Homo sapiens: one gene and its partners. The protein of the gene in region 1 purifies or fractionates together with the protein of each later gene. This does not show direct contact. Each region holds a gene or a part of one and is shown on either strand. Other genes may lie near its edges.

Region 1 (5,146 bases):
ATAGTTAGAAGCCAATGGAAAAGAATAGAGAATACAGAAATAGGCCAGGCACAGCGGTTCATGCTTGTAATCCCAGCACATTGGGATGCCAAGGTGAGAGGATCACTTGAGTGCCAGAGTTCAAGACCAGCCTGGGCAACATAACAAGACCCCATCCCTACCAAAAAAATTAAAAAATTACTCCTGTGTGGTGGCATGCACCTCATGGTATCTGTGGTCCCAGGTACTCAGGGGGCTGAGGTGGGAGGATTGCTTGAGCCTAGGAGGTCAAGGTTGCAGAGAGCTGTGATCGTGCCACTGCAATCTAACAATCTAGCCTGGGTGACAGAGATCCTGGCTCAAAGCCCTCTCCCTGCACCGCCCCCACCCCCCACCAAAAACAAAAACAAAAACGCAAGAACAACTTTCATGTGCTTTAAAATAATTATATATATACATTTGAAAAAGGTGAAAAACCTTGCTCCCCACTCTCCCTGCTAGATGTAACCACTTTTATTAGTTTTGTGTATCTGACCTTTCTTCTTTCAAACACTCCTATTATTGTTTGAGTATGTGTCCCCTCCAAAACTCATGTTAAAATTTAACCCCTAATGTGGCAGTAGAGTGAGACAAGGCCTTTAAGAGGTGATTGGGTCACGGAGGCTCTGCCCTTATGAATGAATTAATCCATTCATAAATTAATGGGTTAATGGATTAATGGGTTATCATGGGGGTAGGACTGGTTGCTTTATAAGCAGAGAAAAAGAGAACTGAGCTTGCACACTCAGCTCCCCCTCCATGTGATACTCTCGGCACTCTGCAGAGTCCCTCCAGCAAGAAGGCCCTTACCCAATGTGGCCACTCGATCTTGAACTTTTCAGCTTCCACGGCTATAAAAATTAAATTCCTTTTCTTTATAAATTACCCAGTTTCGGGTATTCTGGTATAAGCAACAGAAAACGGACTAAGAAACCTTCTTTTTTTTTTTTTTTTTTTTTCCTTTTAAGACGGAGTCTCGCTCAGTTGCGCAGGTTGGAGTGCAGTGGCACGATCTTGGCTCACTGCAACCTCTGCCTCCCGGGTTCAAGCGATTCTAATGCCTCAGCCTCCCTAGCAGTGGGGATTACAGGTGCCCACCACCACGCCCAGCTAATTTTTGTATTTTTAGTAGAGATGGGGTCTCACCATGTTGGCCAGGCTGATCTTGAACTCTTGACCTCAAGTGATCTGCGCACCTTGGCCTCTCAGTGTTGGGATTACAGGTGTGAACCATTGTGCCCAGCCCTAAGATACCTTCTTAGTCTCCGTTTTGTTAAAAAAAAAAGTCTCTCTTTTTTTTAACAAAAAAAAAAAAAAAAAAAGAGAGATGGGGTTTTGCCATGTTGTCCAGGCTGGTCTCGAACTCCTGGACTCAAGCGATCCACCCACCTCAGCCTCCCAAAGTTCTGGGATTACAGGAGTGAGCCACTGCATCCAGCCCAGATCTTTCTTTTACCTGCCCTTGGCCCTCTCCTCTCCCTATCTCCCCAGGTGACTCATCTGGTCCATGGTTGAAAATACTATCCCGTATTTGTATTTCTGGTTTTGACCTCTAGATTTATATATGTAAGTGCGTGACTTGGATGATTTATTATTATTATTATTATTATACTTTAAGTTCTAGGGTACATGTGCACAATGTGCAGGTTTGTTACATATGTATACATGTGCCATGTTGGTGTGCTGCACCTATTAACTCGTCATTTACATTAGGTATATCTCCTAATGCTATCCCTCCCTCCTTCCCCCAACCCACAACAGGCCCCGGTGTGTGATGTCCCCCCTCCTGTGTCCATAGATGATTCTTTAAGTGTCTCAAAATTAACATGTCCTTTTCTCCCTACACCTACCCACCTTCTTGTAACAAACAAACCTGGTCTTCTCCAAACCTCCCTTCTCCCAGTACCTGGCACAACCACCCACCCAGTCACTAAATCCAGAAGCTTAGTCATCCCTGACACTTCCCTTTTTCTTACCACTCATCTAACCCAGGACCAAGTCCTATACCAAATATATTTGGTATCCACACACAACTGTCCATCTTCTTTGCTACCCTTCTAGTCCAGACCATCTTCATCTTCTTCTTGGACTATGCAGTGGACTCTCAACTTCTCTCTCCATTTCTGTTCTTGCCCGCTTCAATTCATCCTTCACACATGAACAACAATGAACTTCTTATAAATCCTATTACTCCTCTACTTAAAATTGTAGAATGATTTCCTACTGCACTCAAAATCAAATTCAAACTCATTCCCTTGGCCTGCAAAATTCTGCATGACCTGGATCCTGTATATATTTCCTATATCATCTCATGTCAATGTATTCCAAGTCTATTATGCTCCAGCCTCAAATAAGCATATATCCACATTGTTAACTCTCTCTTAGACCCTCATGTGCTGCCTTCCTAACAATTCTTATTTCCCATTGTTTTCCCCAGAACCTGGTGTAAGGCCTGGGACACAAAATGTTTGTTCACTGACTGGATAATGAACAGATAAGGCAATAGATGTCACTGGAAAATGATCTTTCCATTCCAAGAAAGTGCTAAAAGACATCATGAAACATCAAAAGTTTCAATTGCCAAATTCTGTGTTATGGCTTACACAGATAATGTAGTCTGTTAATACCAAAAAGTTAACAGAATGGCCCAAAAGAATGCCTCATTTGGTTAAGAATCTCACATATGTTGTAAAATATAGACAAAGTGAAGTGTATACTCAGATATTTATTTACTGGAACTTCATTAATAATGAGCAAACAATAATTAAGTAAGCAGCAACATAAAGCTATGCTTTTAAAAGAGGGCTGGGAAAGAGTTCTTGGCAATAGCTTAGGGGGCCACATGATGATAATGATCACAATCATGGTTAACTATATGCTACAGACACTGTTCTAAATGCTTTATTTAAACCTATTCATTCAATCCTAACAAGAAGGGTATTGACTTCATTGTCCAGGAGGAAACTGAGATAGCAAGAAGTAAAAAGTAACTAATCCAAGAGTTGCATAGTAATAGAGCTAGAATTTGAAAAAAAGCAGTCTAGCTTTATAGCCCTGGCTTTTAACACTACCTGCCTAGTCCTTCCAGGTAATCTATAAAGAACAAAGTTATCATTAAAAAACTCAAGGACAAGAGAAAATACTCCCATGAACTACTGAAAAGATTAAGTAGTTCAAGAATACAAACAAACTCTTGAGCAATTATAGGTATATTAGCTGTGATATAATTACTCAATAGATTGCCCTTGCTTAATTTAAATATGCCTTAAACTTTAAGTATCACCTTTTATCTGACACAGAAAATTATCTCCTGTTCAAATTTCCTTGATGCTGCAAATCAAGGAGCATATTTTAAAATAAGCTTTATATAAGGGCCTACATAATACCTAACTTCAGTTCAGCAAACTCCATCCAAAGCTGCTTTCCCATATAAAATAAGGAATTTCTTGAGGCAATATGCTCTTAGCAATTTACTATTCCTCAAAATATTTGCAAGGCTTTGTGAAAGCAGAGTAACAATTTACAAAACCACGACAAAGTTATCACTTCAATTTGTCCTGTTTATTAGGATTCTCTAATCTAGAGTTCATTTCCACACCAAAATGGGAGACACAGCAAGGGCACTTGGGCAAAAACAGGAATGACAGTAGCACCTAGAACTATCATCTCCGAGAAAGACTAAAGAGACTAAAAAGTTTGTTAAATCAATGGAACCAAAAAAAAAGAGTACCCAACAATGCAAAGAATTAACTCTTCTACAATGGCTATTTACCCAGAATAAAATAACTAGAGAAATGGCTCTATATATAATAGATAATTAACATAACAAAATATTAAAATTACAAACAGCTTGGGGAGGTTTTTTTTTTTGTAAGAGCAAATAATACAGTTCTCTCCTACTGCTTTTCTTTTATTTTCTTCTCTTTTTTTTTTGAGATGGAGTCTCGCTCTGTTGTCCAGGCTGGAGTGCAGTGGCGCGATCTCGGCTCACTGCAACCTCCGCCTCCCGGGTTCAAACGATTCTCATGCCTCAGCCTCCTGAGTAGCTGGGATTACAGGCGTCTGCCACCACACCCAGCTAATTTTTTTGTATTTTTTGTAGACACCGGGTTTCACCATGTTAGACAGGCTAGTCTCAAACTCCTGATCTCAGGTGATCTTCCCGCCTCGGCCTCCCAAAGTGCTGGGATTACAGGCGTGAGCCACGGCGCCTGGCCAGTTCTCTCCTACTCTTTAGCAACAACATTCACAGTAGACACGTGTTAAGGCTCCTCCGTCATTTCCACTTGCCAGAAAGATAACTCAACACATGACAGTCATGAAGCATGAACTCAGACAAACTATTCTGAAGAATATAACTGATTTTCTTTCCTTAATCTATTACACTTCAAATCTAGCCAAGCACAGTTTTTGTTATGCTACAATTTATAAGACTAAACTAGCTAAAGAGGGAAAAAAAGTTTGTAAATAAGGCTTATGTGCGTATGTGTGTATTTACGTGTGTATGTGGATAGATCCCTTTAATACCTAAGAGTAATTATTTTCATGTGAACTTGGAAATATTACCAAACCATAATAAGATGCCTGGATACAACCTTGTTAGAACAGAAAGAACACTTGAGACCTTACAGTTCAGGTTCTAGCACTACCTAAGCCAGATGACCTCAAGCAAGCCAATTACTAATTACTGATTGTTTCTGAGCCTTAATTTTCTCCTCTGTTAAATGGGAATCTACTTATACATTCACAGAGATTCCTTCTAATTCTAAATATTGGTTTCAGTGAAATAATAATGTTTCTTTTTTTTTTGAGACGGAGTCTGGCTCTGTCTCCCAGGCTGGAGTGCAGTGGCGCAATCTCGGCTCACTGCAAGCTCCGCCTCCTGGGTTCGCGCCATTCTCCTGCCTCAGCCTCCGGAGTAGCTGGGATTACAGGCGCCTGCCACCACGCCCGGCTAATTTTTTGTATTTTTAGTAGAGACAGGGTTTCACTGTATTAGCCAGGATTGTCTCGATCGCCTGACCTCGTGATCCGCCCAACTCGGCCTCCCAAAGTGCTGGGATTACAAGCGTGAACCACCGCGCCCGGCCCAATAATAAGGTTTCTTATTTAATGTAAGTAAGATAGG
Region 2 (3,700 bases), on another chromosome or scaffold:
AATGATTAGTCACTGACTATCTACTGCTTGTATATCTCTTAGGCCATTTGAGCCCATGGAGGAAAGATTTCCGATGCCCTTTCTACAGAGGACAACAGAACTTCAGAGCAGGGGTCACACAGCCTCTCCCCATCACAGGCCACCTCTGCAGCCACATGGCCCCAGCACAGGCTACCTTGTATCTCGGTTTGAAGCTCTTCCAGGTGTCAACGAGGTCCAGGCCGTCCAGCCTCGTGCCCCTGGCTTTCTCGTCACTCTCATACTCCACATCAGTTTTATTCTTGGGGTACATGTATTTCCGGCCACCCCCCATGATCACCTAAAAGAGACAGGAGCCATCACTTCTGCAGGGTTCCAAGATGCCCAGAAGCCCCAGTGACCTCGGCTTGGAACCTGGACTCCTGGAGTCCCTGGAGATGGTGTGGACACTTTCCCAGCCTGGTGAGCCAGGCCTCAGTCATCTCTGGGCCTTACTTGTCCAGCGTGGGGAGATGAAATCACGAGTCTATTGGGACGGTGGTTTGGCGCTTCTAGGGATATTGGAGGAGCTGATAACTTACCTTACTTGGCTTCCCGGAATCCACAGAACTCCCACTCGAATAAGAATCAGACCATTTACAGAGCGTTCCCTGTGTGTCAGGCACTAAGCATTTAAGATACATTCTGACTCAACTTCATACCAAGGCTGCAATAAACCCTGGCCACCTGTTTTCCAACTAAAAAAATGGGCACAGAAATTGGTTTTTTCCCCCGAAGGCCACAGAGCCAGGAAGTGGCAGCATCAGGATTCAAACCCAGGGCTTTTCCGGCTGTGGCACTAGGGCCCTGCTGTATTCGTGCAGCTAAGGGCAGGGACTCCCAGAGCCTCCTCTCCCACGGTGGAAGGCTGAATGCGTGCAGGGAGAGGCTCCAGCCAGGGAGGTCTTTGGGGCAGCCCACAGCTGGGAGCCAGCCCACCGCAGCCTGGGCAAACAGCGGGGCCGGGCCTCACGGCTCTGTAGTCACCACCAGGCTAATTTTACCCACCAGCTGGTGTGTGCGGGCAGACGGACGCGGGACTGTTTGTTTTCCTTGGGAGTCCATGTTTGAAGTTCTGACTATTTTTAAAGTAGGGCCAAGAGCATAACAGCAGCCGCCTGCGGTGACCACCACACTAGTGTTCTCTTGTCACCGCGGGTGCCAGCCCGGGCCACTGCCCCTGGCTGACACCTTGGGAGTGCAGAGCCTGGCTGACACTGGCCCCAGATCCACCATTCCAGGCCTGCATCTCATAGGTCCCTTGCTCTATCCTCCACTCTGTCTCCCACCTTAGATCCTAGGTTTTGTGGAATGCACAGGGGGCCAGGAACACAGGATGGCTGGAGAGGTGGGAAAGGTGCCCCAGGACCAGCCTGGGTCCAGGCCATGGTCATGGCCGTGAGCTTTGAAGTCAGACTTGGGTTTGAACCCTGACTCTATCGACTACTGACCAAGGGCCTGCCACCTAAACTCTGTGAGCCCAGTTTTCCTATCCATAAAATGCGACTGGCCAGGCGCGGTGGCTCATGCCTGTAATCCCAGCACTTTGGGAGGCTGAGGCGGGAGGATCACTTGATGCCAGGAGTTTGAGACCAGCCTGGACAACATGGCAAGACCCTGTCTATACAAATAAAATTTGTTTCGAAACTTAGCCGGGCATGGTGGTACAGGCTTGTGCTCCTAGCTATTCAAGGGACTGAGCCAGGAGGAGCACTTGAGCCCAGGAGGCTGAGACTGAAGTGAGCCATGATCACGCCACTGCACTCCAGCCTGGGCAACAGAGTGAGACCCTGTCTCAAAAATAAAATAAAATAGGCCGGGCGCGATGGCTCACGCCTATAATGCCAGCACTTTGGGAGGCCAAAACGGGCGGATCACCTGAGGTCCAGAGTTTGAGACCAGCCTGGCCAACATGGCGAAACCCCGTCTCTACTAAAAATTTAAAAAAAAAAAATTAGCCGGGCGTGGTGATGTGCGCCTATAATCCCAGCTACTCAGGAGGCTGAGGCAGGACAATCGCTTGAACCCGGGAGGTGAAGGCTGCAGTGAGCCAAGATCGCACCACTACACTCCAGCCTTAGAGACAGAATGAGACTCCGTCTCAAAATAATAATAATAAATAAAATGCAACTAACATCCATCCACAGACCCATCACAGGAGGAAAGGCAGTCACCCAGGGAAGTCCCCAGCACCCAGGGGGTGGCTGCCACTGGAAGGCATTTCTATTGCCAGAAGGAGTGGGGAAACAAGTGGTTCAGAGAGGCAGAGTCCTTGCTCTCAGCTGCAGCCAGGAGCTCAGGGGGCAGGGTGGGCTGGGAGAAGAAGGAGAAGGGGACCCCAGGTCACGGGTCCCTTGCCCCGCCCCCCACAACTGTTCCCACAGAACCTGACCTCTTGGCATCTTCAGAGTGGAAAACGAAGCCCCCAATCTTCCTGCAGGGAGCCTCATCGTTTCCAGCCCGGCAGCGACTTCACACGGGCTCATTAAACTCCCAAATAACAGACTTGCTGTTTGGCTTTGGGGTTTAGGTTTGTGTCTTTCTTTCTTTCTTTCTCTTCTTTCTTTTTTTTTTTTAAGCAACAGTATTTATTTTCAGGGTGGACACCAGGATTTTTGTTTCATGTACAGTCTGGGGACTGGGAGGCTTTTGGGGGGGTGGTGACGGAGAGGCAGGTGGGGCTGGGAGAGAAAGGAAGAGGAGGAAAGAAAGGGATCCTCACACAGGTCCTCCGTCCTCACTCACTCCCTGGCTTGTGCCCCTTGACGTGGCCCCTGCGGCCCCCCCTCCTCATCTCCCACCCCCTCACCTGAAACATCTTCCCTCCCCTCGAATTTCCTTCAAGTTCCTGTCCCCTGCTCAGGCTGTCCCTGACAAACCCCTCTGAGGAGCAGTCCCCATGTAATTATACCCTGTGCCTGTACAACAAATGTTCTCACATCCATGACCTCATCACGGCCTCCCACGGCCCTGGGAGCAAGCAAGTGTGGCTCTCTGTTTCTGCTGCACAGGTGGGGAAACTGAGGCATAGGGAGGGGAAGGAACTCGCCCCAGGCCACATGTCGGGTGAAGGCAAGCCAGGATGAGTGGCTTGGCCTCAGATGTCTGTTCAGTGAAAGGGGCCAACAGCACTGTGTGTCCTGAAAGCGGGTACTTAATCCACCATGCTGGGAAAAGGGCAGACGTGGGTCTCTACTGTGGAGGGGCCAAGTAGCCCCCAGAAATTTGTGGGGGGCAGTGCATGGAGGGCTGAAGGCAGGTGAGTTTGTCTGGTGGTGGAGAGAAAGAGGTGAGGTGTAGCTGGGCAGGGGGGCTTTCTCTGCCCCTCACCGAATCCCCATTCCAGGCTCAAGGGGCAGAAGTCCCCAGATCGCCTCAGCAGTCCCCCACAGTAGGCAATAAAAGCCTGAAAAGGAACGAGCCGGGCATTCTCACTTAAGAACAGAGAGTAAGCGTCACATGGATGACTTCTGTCTCCATGAGTCAGCTCAGTTTGTTGAAGTGTGTTTCAGGGCAAGGACATGTGGCTCCTGCGTAAGTGCCACCACCTTCTGGGCACTCGCTAGGCCTCGGGTCCTGTGCTGAGCTCCACAGGGATTATCTTAATCAGTTCTTGGCATAAGCTTATGAGGCAGGTACAGTTCACAAAGGAGTTGTGAAAGGGAAGCCTCAGAGAGGTTAA
Region 3 (3,700 bases), on another chromosome or scaffold:
TAATGACTCTGGAAAAATATGTGAAAAAAATACAAAAGTGTACATAAAAGTTATTACAGCTATGTATAAAGTACATATATAGTTATGTATAAGTATATATTAGAAACCAAGAAATGAATATTATTAGTATGGGGGATATTTTGTAGTTTAAAGTTGACTTATTCATAAATACAATATTCTTAATAATACGGGACTTGGTTGAAAAATTAATATGAAAGAAATCTGACTAAATGAAAAGTTAACTGCCTCAGAATTTTTATTGATGTGTTTCATAAAAGGCAGTAAGAATTGTCTTTTTTACAGTTACTCATATGTTTAATGATTCTTTGGAAGGTCTTAATTACAGAGCACGGTGACCTGGGTAATAGCAGATTTTTAGATCCAAGAAACAAAATTTCCTTTAAATTTGACCACTTACGGAAAGAAGCAAGTGACCCCCAGCCAGAAGAAGCAGATGGAGGTCTGAAGTCTTGGAGAGAATCCTGTGACAGTGCTTTAAGAGCCTATGTGAAAGACCATTATTCCAACGGCTTCTGTACTGTTAAGTATCTGACTGCTTCGTTATCAGAGAGTGTTTTCTTATATTTACCTTATCCTTTGGAGGCTTTGGCCTACCAAACATCCCTACTTTCTTCTTAGCCATGCTCTCTTCTCCTCTGCATTTTATTCCCTAAATCATTTTGGAAAGGGGTATAAATGAAATTTTTATATGGAAAATTTCTTTTTAAAATCCCAATGCACAAAAAATTTAGGTATCAGTGTATTCTGTTTTCACATTTGACTTATGAAAAATGCCTTACACCCATCAGAAAAAGGTCTTTGGTTTTTCTTTTTTTCTTTCTTTTTTTTAAATTAACCTTTTAAATTAATTTTTTTTTGTTTGTATTTTTACCCAGATCTAAAAGGTCTTTGGTTTGGACATGGAGAAAAAAATGGTATACTAAGATTGTTGAGAGAGCTTTTGCTCATATTTATGGCTTTTTGATATAGGCATTTTTACACAAACTACTTCTACATAGTTTAGATGTTTATATTCAGTAATCAAAACTATTAGAACTAAACAATTGGCTGGACATGGTGGCTCATGCCTGTAATCCCAGCACTTTGGGAGGCCAAGGTGGGCAGATCACTTGAGGCCAGGAGTTCGAGACCAGCCTGGCCAACATGGTGAAACCTTTACTTAAAAAATACAAAAAGTAGCTGGATGTGGTGGTGCACACCTGTAGTTTCAGCTACTCAGGAGGCTGAGGCACAAGAATCACTTGAACCAGGGAGGTGGAGGTTGCAGTGAGCTGAGACCACACCACTGCATTCCAGCCTGGGCAACAGAGTGAGACACTGTCTCAAAAAAACAAAAAACAAAAAAAACCAAACAATTTTTTTTTAATCAGGAGTGATTTTCTTTTTGTTGTTGTTTTTGCTGTTGTTGTTGTTGTTCTTTTGTTTTTTGAGACTAAGTCTTACTCTGTCACCCAGGCTAGAATGCAGGGGCACCGTGTCAGCTCAATGTCACCTCCATCTCCTGGGTTCAAGCAATTCTCCTGCCTCAGCTTCCTGAGTAGCTGGGATTACGGGTGCCCACCACCACACCTGGCTAATTTTTATATTTTTAGTAGAGACAGAGCTTCACCATGTTGGCCAGGCTGGTCTCGAACTCCTAACATCAGGTGATCCAGCTGCCTCGGACTCCCAAAGTGCTGGGATTACAGGCGTGAGCTGCTGCACCTGGCCTAATTTTCTTTTACTCCCTCTTGACTGTAAAAATAGATAAATTTGGCTTTATTATTTTTCCTTTATAAAATTATGGCATATTAAGAAAAATATTGATTAGAATATTTTTTATTTTTAAATTGACAAAAATATGATATGTACAACATGATATTTTGAAATATGTATACATTGTGGAATGGCTATATTGAGCTAATAACATGGATTTCTATACATATTTATCATTTTTTTGTTGTGGGAAAATCAGCAATTTTCACTAGAATATTTTAAATATACAATGATGATGAATTACATGGCAGTCTAGAATACAGTTAAGAGCACCTACTTTGAAGCCTTACTAACTGGTTTGATTCCTGGCCCTGCCAATTAATTAGTTGTGTGACCTTAGGTAAATTACTTAACATCTCTGTGCCTCAATTCTTTGACTGTAAAATGGAAATAATTGTTTTTATCTCATAGAGTTGTTGTGAAGATTTAATGAATTAGTAATATATGTAATATATGCCTGGAACAGTGCCTGGCACAAAGTAAGCTCTACATAAATGTTAGATGAATGTTAGGCTAGGTGTCATTATGTTTGATTTTTTTTTTTTTTTTTTTTTTTTTTAATGAGAATACCCATTATGGTGGACTGGACAAGTATAGAATTCCTGTTGGGAAGCCAGTATTGCAAAGGGGAGACATGATAGACTCCCATTTAGAAATTGACTGTTTAATCCTAAATATACTTTGAATTTATTGTTTGTTACCTGTTCAAAGTTTGTCACTACCCATTCTTAATTTGGAGAGCTCCAGCACCAAATAACCCTACTGTGTCCTTAGCTATCAAATGACCTACAGAAAGTCATGGAATTGTTGTGATGGTGTCTGCTGTATATAAGTATCCTATGTCTTATGTCTTCAGCTGACCTGCTTAGTAGTCCGTAATTTCATCTCCTTATTCCCTATCACATTTTCTACATAGTATGTTCCAAACATTTTTCATTGTCCTCTGACAGGCATCTAATCCCCCATGTTTTGTAAGGATTGAAACTGACAGAAATTTTTTTTTTTTTTTTTTGAGACAGAGTCTCACTCTGTCTTCCAAGCTGGAGTGCAATGGTGTGGTCTCGGCTCACTGCAACCTCCCCTTCCTGGGTTCAAGCGATTCTCCTGCCTCAGCCTCCTGAGTAGCTGGAATTACAGGCGCCTGCCACCACACCTGGCTAATTTTTGTATTTTTAGTAGAGACGGGGTTTCACTGTGTTGGCCAGGCTGGTCTTGAACTCCTGACCTTGTAATCCGTTCGCCTCAGCTTCCCAAGTAGCTAGGACCACAGGTGCACACCACCATACCTATCTAATTTTTCTCTGTGTGTGTTGTGTGTGTGTAGGGACTACAAGGCATGAGCCACCAGGCCCGGCCTATTTCTCCTTCTTTGTCTGCCCTTTCCACCTTGCCCTTTCTCCCTCTTCTCCACTTTTTCCCTTCTCTCATCTCTCTCTGCATCACCACCACGTCAGTACATATTCTTTGCCTGCTAATGCCATTTCCTCTATCTACTTCTGAACCCTTTAATTTTTTACTTTAGTCTCCATTCTACAGAAACTGCTCTGAGTTTACTAATGGTTCCTGAGTTACCTGGTCCAGTGTCCTTTTCCTTGTCCATGACTTCCGAATGGCATTTCACACTGAAGCCAATCAACCACTTCTAGAAATTATCTTTTACTTAGGCTGCTGTCAGCAACCCCTAATTCTTTTTTTTTTTTAGAGATGGAGTTTTGCTCTTTTTGCCCAGGCTGGCGTACAGTGGCATGATCTCAGCTCACTGCAACCTCCGCCTCTCAGGTTCAAGCGATTTTCCTGCCTCAGCCTCTCTAGTAGTTGGGATTACAGGTGCCCACCACCACACCTGGCTAATTTTTGTATTTTTAGTAGAGATGGGGTTTCACCATGTTGGCCGGGCTGGTCTTGAACTCCTGACCTCAGGTAA
Region 4 (3,700 bases), on another chromosome or scaffold:
AATGGGGCGTACTTAGCTAAAAAAAAATCTGGTGTTGGCCGGGCGAGGTGGCTCACGCCTGCAATCCCAGCACTTTGGGAGGTCAAGGTGGTGGATCAAGAAGTCAGGAGTTCAAGACCAACCTGGCCAAGTTGGTGAAACCCTGTCTTTACTAAAAATACAAAAATTAGCCGGACGACAAAAAATACAATATTTTTTGTATTGTATATATATATATATAAAGTATTTATATATTGTATATATAAAAAATACAAAAATTACAGGATGACACTCCTGTAATCCCAGCTACTCGGGAGGCTGAGGCAGAGAATTCCTTAAATCTGGGAGGTGGAGTTTACTGTGAGCCGAGATCTCGCCACTGCACTCCAGCCTGGGCAACAGAGCGAGACTCCATCTCAAAAAAAAAAATTTGTTGTTTATCTAAAATTCCAAGTCAAGTGGGTGCAGAGAATCACCAGCAGAAGGGAGAGTACTAGCAAAAGCAGGAGCAGCTATGAGCAGGGGCTGTTTGTGTAGCTGGAGCAGAGAAGCTGTTGGGAGGGGGAGTGCAACAACACTGGTGAGGTGGGGCCAGCCCAGGGAAGGCCTGTGAAGCCAGGCTCTGGGTTTGGATTTGGCTGTACAAGCCACTGTCCTCCCATCTGGACAGCTGCAACAGCCTCACAGCTCTGCAGCCACATCCATCTCTCCCCTCTGTAGTGAGTTCTCAACACAATAATCAGAACTCAGGTCAGACCATCTCACTTCCTGCTCAAGCCTCTAATGGCTTCCCAGGCTGTTCCTAGGAAAAGACACCCGAACTCCTTACTCAGCCTAGAAGACCCTGTAGAATCTGACCTTGCCTAGGTGAATAAAATCTACTCCAGAGGGTTATTGGGCAGATCAAGGAGGGGAGTGTCAGGCAATGGTTCTCAACCTTGGCTGCTCATTGAAACCATCCAGGGAGCTTTAAAAATGCAGGTGCCTGAGCTCCACCCCCAGATATTTTGGGTTAATTGGTCTAGGGTGGGACTGGGCATCAGGAATTTCAACAGATCCCCAGGTGATTCCAGTGTGCAGCCAAATTGGGAATGATGGATACAAAGTGTCTTCCCTGGCCCAGAGCATGTGCTCAGTGAGAGGGGTGGTGTTGCCATGCGTCTGATTATTACCGCCACACATCCAGCTTCTATCCTGTTTCCCCCAGCAGTGATTGTCACAGCTGTGTCATCACTGGTGTCCTGGCCTTGGCCTCTTCCTACTCTCCACCTCCCAACATGCAGCACAGAGCAGCTGGAAAGGTCTTTCCTGAAATGCCAACCTGACCTTCCTCCCTCACTGGCCTGCCACTCTCTGAACCTCGAGGCTTTCCCACCTGCATTCCTCTGCCTGTAATGTTCTATAGCCCTTCTCTTAACTTGACCAACACTTACTCCTCCTTTGCATCCCAAGTTCCTCTTTTATGCTGTCTTAGGACTGAACTTTTTCCTCTACCACACTCAGCATACCCTGTGCTGGTTTTTCATTGTGTGGGAACTTGCTTGGCTCCTCTCTCCCCCAGCACACTTTCAGCTCCATGAGCGGAGACCCAGTCTTTCTTATTCTCCACTGTCCCCACCAGAGCCTAGCACACAGTGCTGGGGTGGGCCTCATTACATGTTGAACAAATGAATGGATGAAAGAATGGCTGAGCACGGGAGCAATAAGATCAGGTTGGCATTTCCAGAAAGAGCTTTCCAGCTGCTTTGTGCTGCATGCTGGGAGGTAGAGGGAAGGAAGAGGCCAAGACCAAGACACCCGTGATGACACAGCTGTGACAATACAGCCAAAGAATGATCAGGCCTCCATTAGGATGGAGATGATGGGATGGGAGGGGGACAGATCTCAGAGACACTGGGATGGTCAAATGGGCTTATGGGGAGAAGGTGCCACATTCCCTGATGTTTTACCCTGAGGGACAGGCAGGATGACAAGATGGAAAGAGAGCCTTCCAAAGAAAGAGGCTGTCACTGGAAAGAGCCATTCTGGTTTGGCCACGTTGAGCTGGATGTGCCAGCAGGACATCAGGGAATCAGAGGCCAGGGGCAGAGCAGCCTGGGCTGGGGCTGGGGATTTCAGAGTCACATCAATAGAGGTGAGAGTAAAAGTAAAATAAAATTTTGAAGTTTTCATGCAAGTGTTTCTTGCCATTTCTGTGAGCCAGAGTTCCCGGGGTTTGGAGTGTGGGTCCCTAGGAGGCTCTTCTGTCTGCAGAGGCACATCATGAGCCCTTCCCTTGTCCCTGCAGCGATCCTGGGCATGCACACGCTCATGAGTAACCAGCAGTACTACCAGGCCCTGAGCAGCAGCTCCATCATGAACAAGGAGGGGCTCAACAGTGAGTATGCGCCCGCCCCCAGGAGGGACCTCATGCTTCTTGCTTCCTCCACTCACTGATGTTCTCTGGCTCATTGCAGAAGTTTTAACATGTTATATAGCCAAATCTGTTCATCCTTTCCTTTGAGTCTCCTGGGATTTGTGTCTTGTTTACAAAGGCCTTCTCTATCCCAGTATTATAGAAATGTTCTCCTATATTTTCTTCTAAAAGTTTTAGAGATTTACTTTTTATATTCAACTTTTTCTTTTTTTAGACAGGGTCTTGCTCTGTCAGCCAGGCTGGAGTGCATTGGCACAATCTTGACACACTGCAGCCTGGACCTCCTGGGCTTAAGCGATCCTCCCACCTCTGCCTCCTGAGTAGCTGAGGCTACAGGTGTATGCCAGCATGCCTGGCTAATTTTGTTTATTTTGTATGGAGATGAGGTCACACCATTGCCCAGACTGGTCTCGAACTCCTGGACTCAAGCAATCCTCCTGCCTCAGCCTCCCAAAGTGCTGGGATTACAGGCATGAGCCACCACACCTGGCCTTATATTCAACTTCTTAATCTACCTGGAGTTCATGTTTGTGTGTGCTGTGGGATGAGACCAAACTTTCATTTTTTCGAATTAATATCCAGTGGTCCCAACACCATTCCTTGCAAGATTTATCCTTTCCCCACTAGTTTGGGGCCTGCCTTTATCATCCACATGGATCTGTTTCTAGGTGCCTCCTCTGTTTCATGAGCCCTTTTGTCCTTTCCTGTGCCAATATTGCATTGCCTTAATTACTCCACTGCATTGTTCCAAAGCTGGCATTTTGGCCCCAAACAGAAATGAGGCTGCCAAAAAAAATAATTATTCCTCCCTCTGGAAGATTGATGCATTTCTTTCCCATCCGGGCTTCATCTTAGCCTCCCAAGAGTCCACTGAGGTCATGAGCCCCGGGAAAATGACTAGCCCTGCCTTACAGATGTAGACCCAAGGTTCAGAGAGTTTAAGTAATTCACCCAGTTCTTGCAGGACGTCAAAGGCAGAGTCCAAGTAGAACCCCAGCCTCCTGGCTCCCTTGCGGGGCTTCTTCTGAGTGGTGCCCCCTACCCCCACCCAGCCCCTGTGATGTGCAGCCCTCACGTGCCCCAACCCTGCACATGCTCCCTTCCACAGTATCTTTGTGTTGGCAGAAAGTGAGCCCCTTGTTTCTGTGAGCCACCTCCCTTTCATCGGTCACTCTAGGCGTGATTAAACCCACACAATACAAGCCTGTGCCCGACGAAGAACCAAATTCAACAGACGTAGAGGAAACGCTGGAACGGATAAAGAACAACGACCCAAAACTTGAAGAAGTTAACCTCAATAATATC

The links. The genes of interacting proteins can lie anywhere in the genome.
Region 2: the proteins of VMP1 (region 1) and ALPL purify together in Homo sapiens (affinity purification with mass spectrometry; one large-scale study listed by BioGRID and IntAct). This does not show direct contact.
Region 3: the proteins of VMP1 (region 1) and CAPZA1 purify together in Homo sapiens (affinity purification with mass spectrometry; one large-scale study listed by BioGRID and IntAct). This does not show direct contact.
Region 4: the proteins of VMP1 (region 1) and TMOD1 purify together in Homo sapiens (affinity purification with mass spectrometry; one large-scale study listed by BioGRID and IntAct). This does not show direct contact.

What each region holds. Positions count from the first base shown.
Region 1 is NC_000017.11:59,709,878-59,715,023, reverse strand, and holds part of VMP1 (vacuole membrane protein 1), read right to left. Parts: intron 1-5,146. UniProt on the Homo sapiens protein: Phospholipid scramblase involved in lipid homeostasis and membrane dynamics processes. Has phospholipid scramblase activity toward cholesterol and phosphatidylserine, as well as phosphatidylethanolamine and phosphatidylcholine.
Region 2 is NC_000001.11:21,564,723-21,568,422, reverse strand, and holds part of ALPL (alkaline phosphatase, tissue-nonspecific isozyme isoform 1 preproprotein), read right to left. Parts: intron 320-3,700; coding exon 176-319; intron 1-175. UniProt on the Homo sapiens protein: Alkaline phosphatase that metabolizes various phosphate compounds and plays a key role in skeletal mineralization and adaptive thermogenesis.
Region 3 is NC_000001.11:112,654,132-112,657,831, forward strand, and holds part of CAPZA1 (F-actin-capping protein subunit alpha-1), read left to right. Parts: intron 1-333; coding exon 334-540; intron 541-3,700. UniProt on the Homo sapiens protein: F-actin-capping proteins bind in a Ca(2+)-independent manner to the fast growing ends of actin filaments (barbed end) thereby blocking the exchange of subunits at these ends.
Region 4 is NC_000009.12:97,560,466-97,564,165, forward strand, and holds part of TMOD1 (tropomodulin-1), read left to right. Parts: intron 1-2,266; coding exon 2,267-2,356; intron 2,357-3,572; coding exon 3,573-3,700. UniProt on the Homo sapiens protein: Blocks the elongation and depolymerization of the actin filaments at the pointed end. The Tmod/TM complex contributes to the formation of the short actin protofilament, which in turn defines the geometry of the membrane skeleton.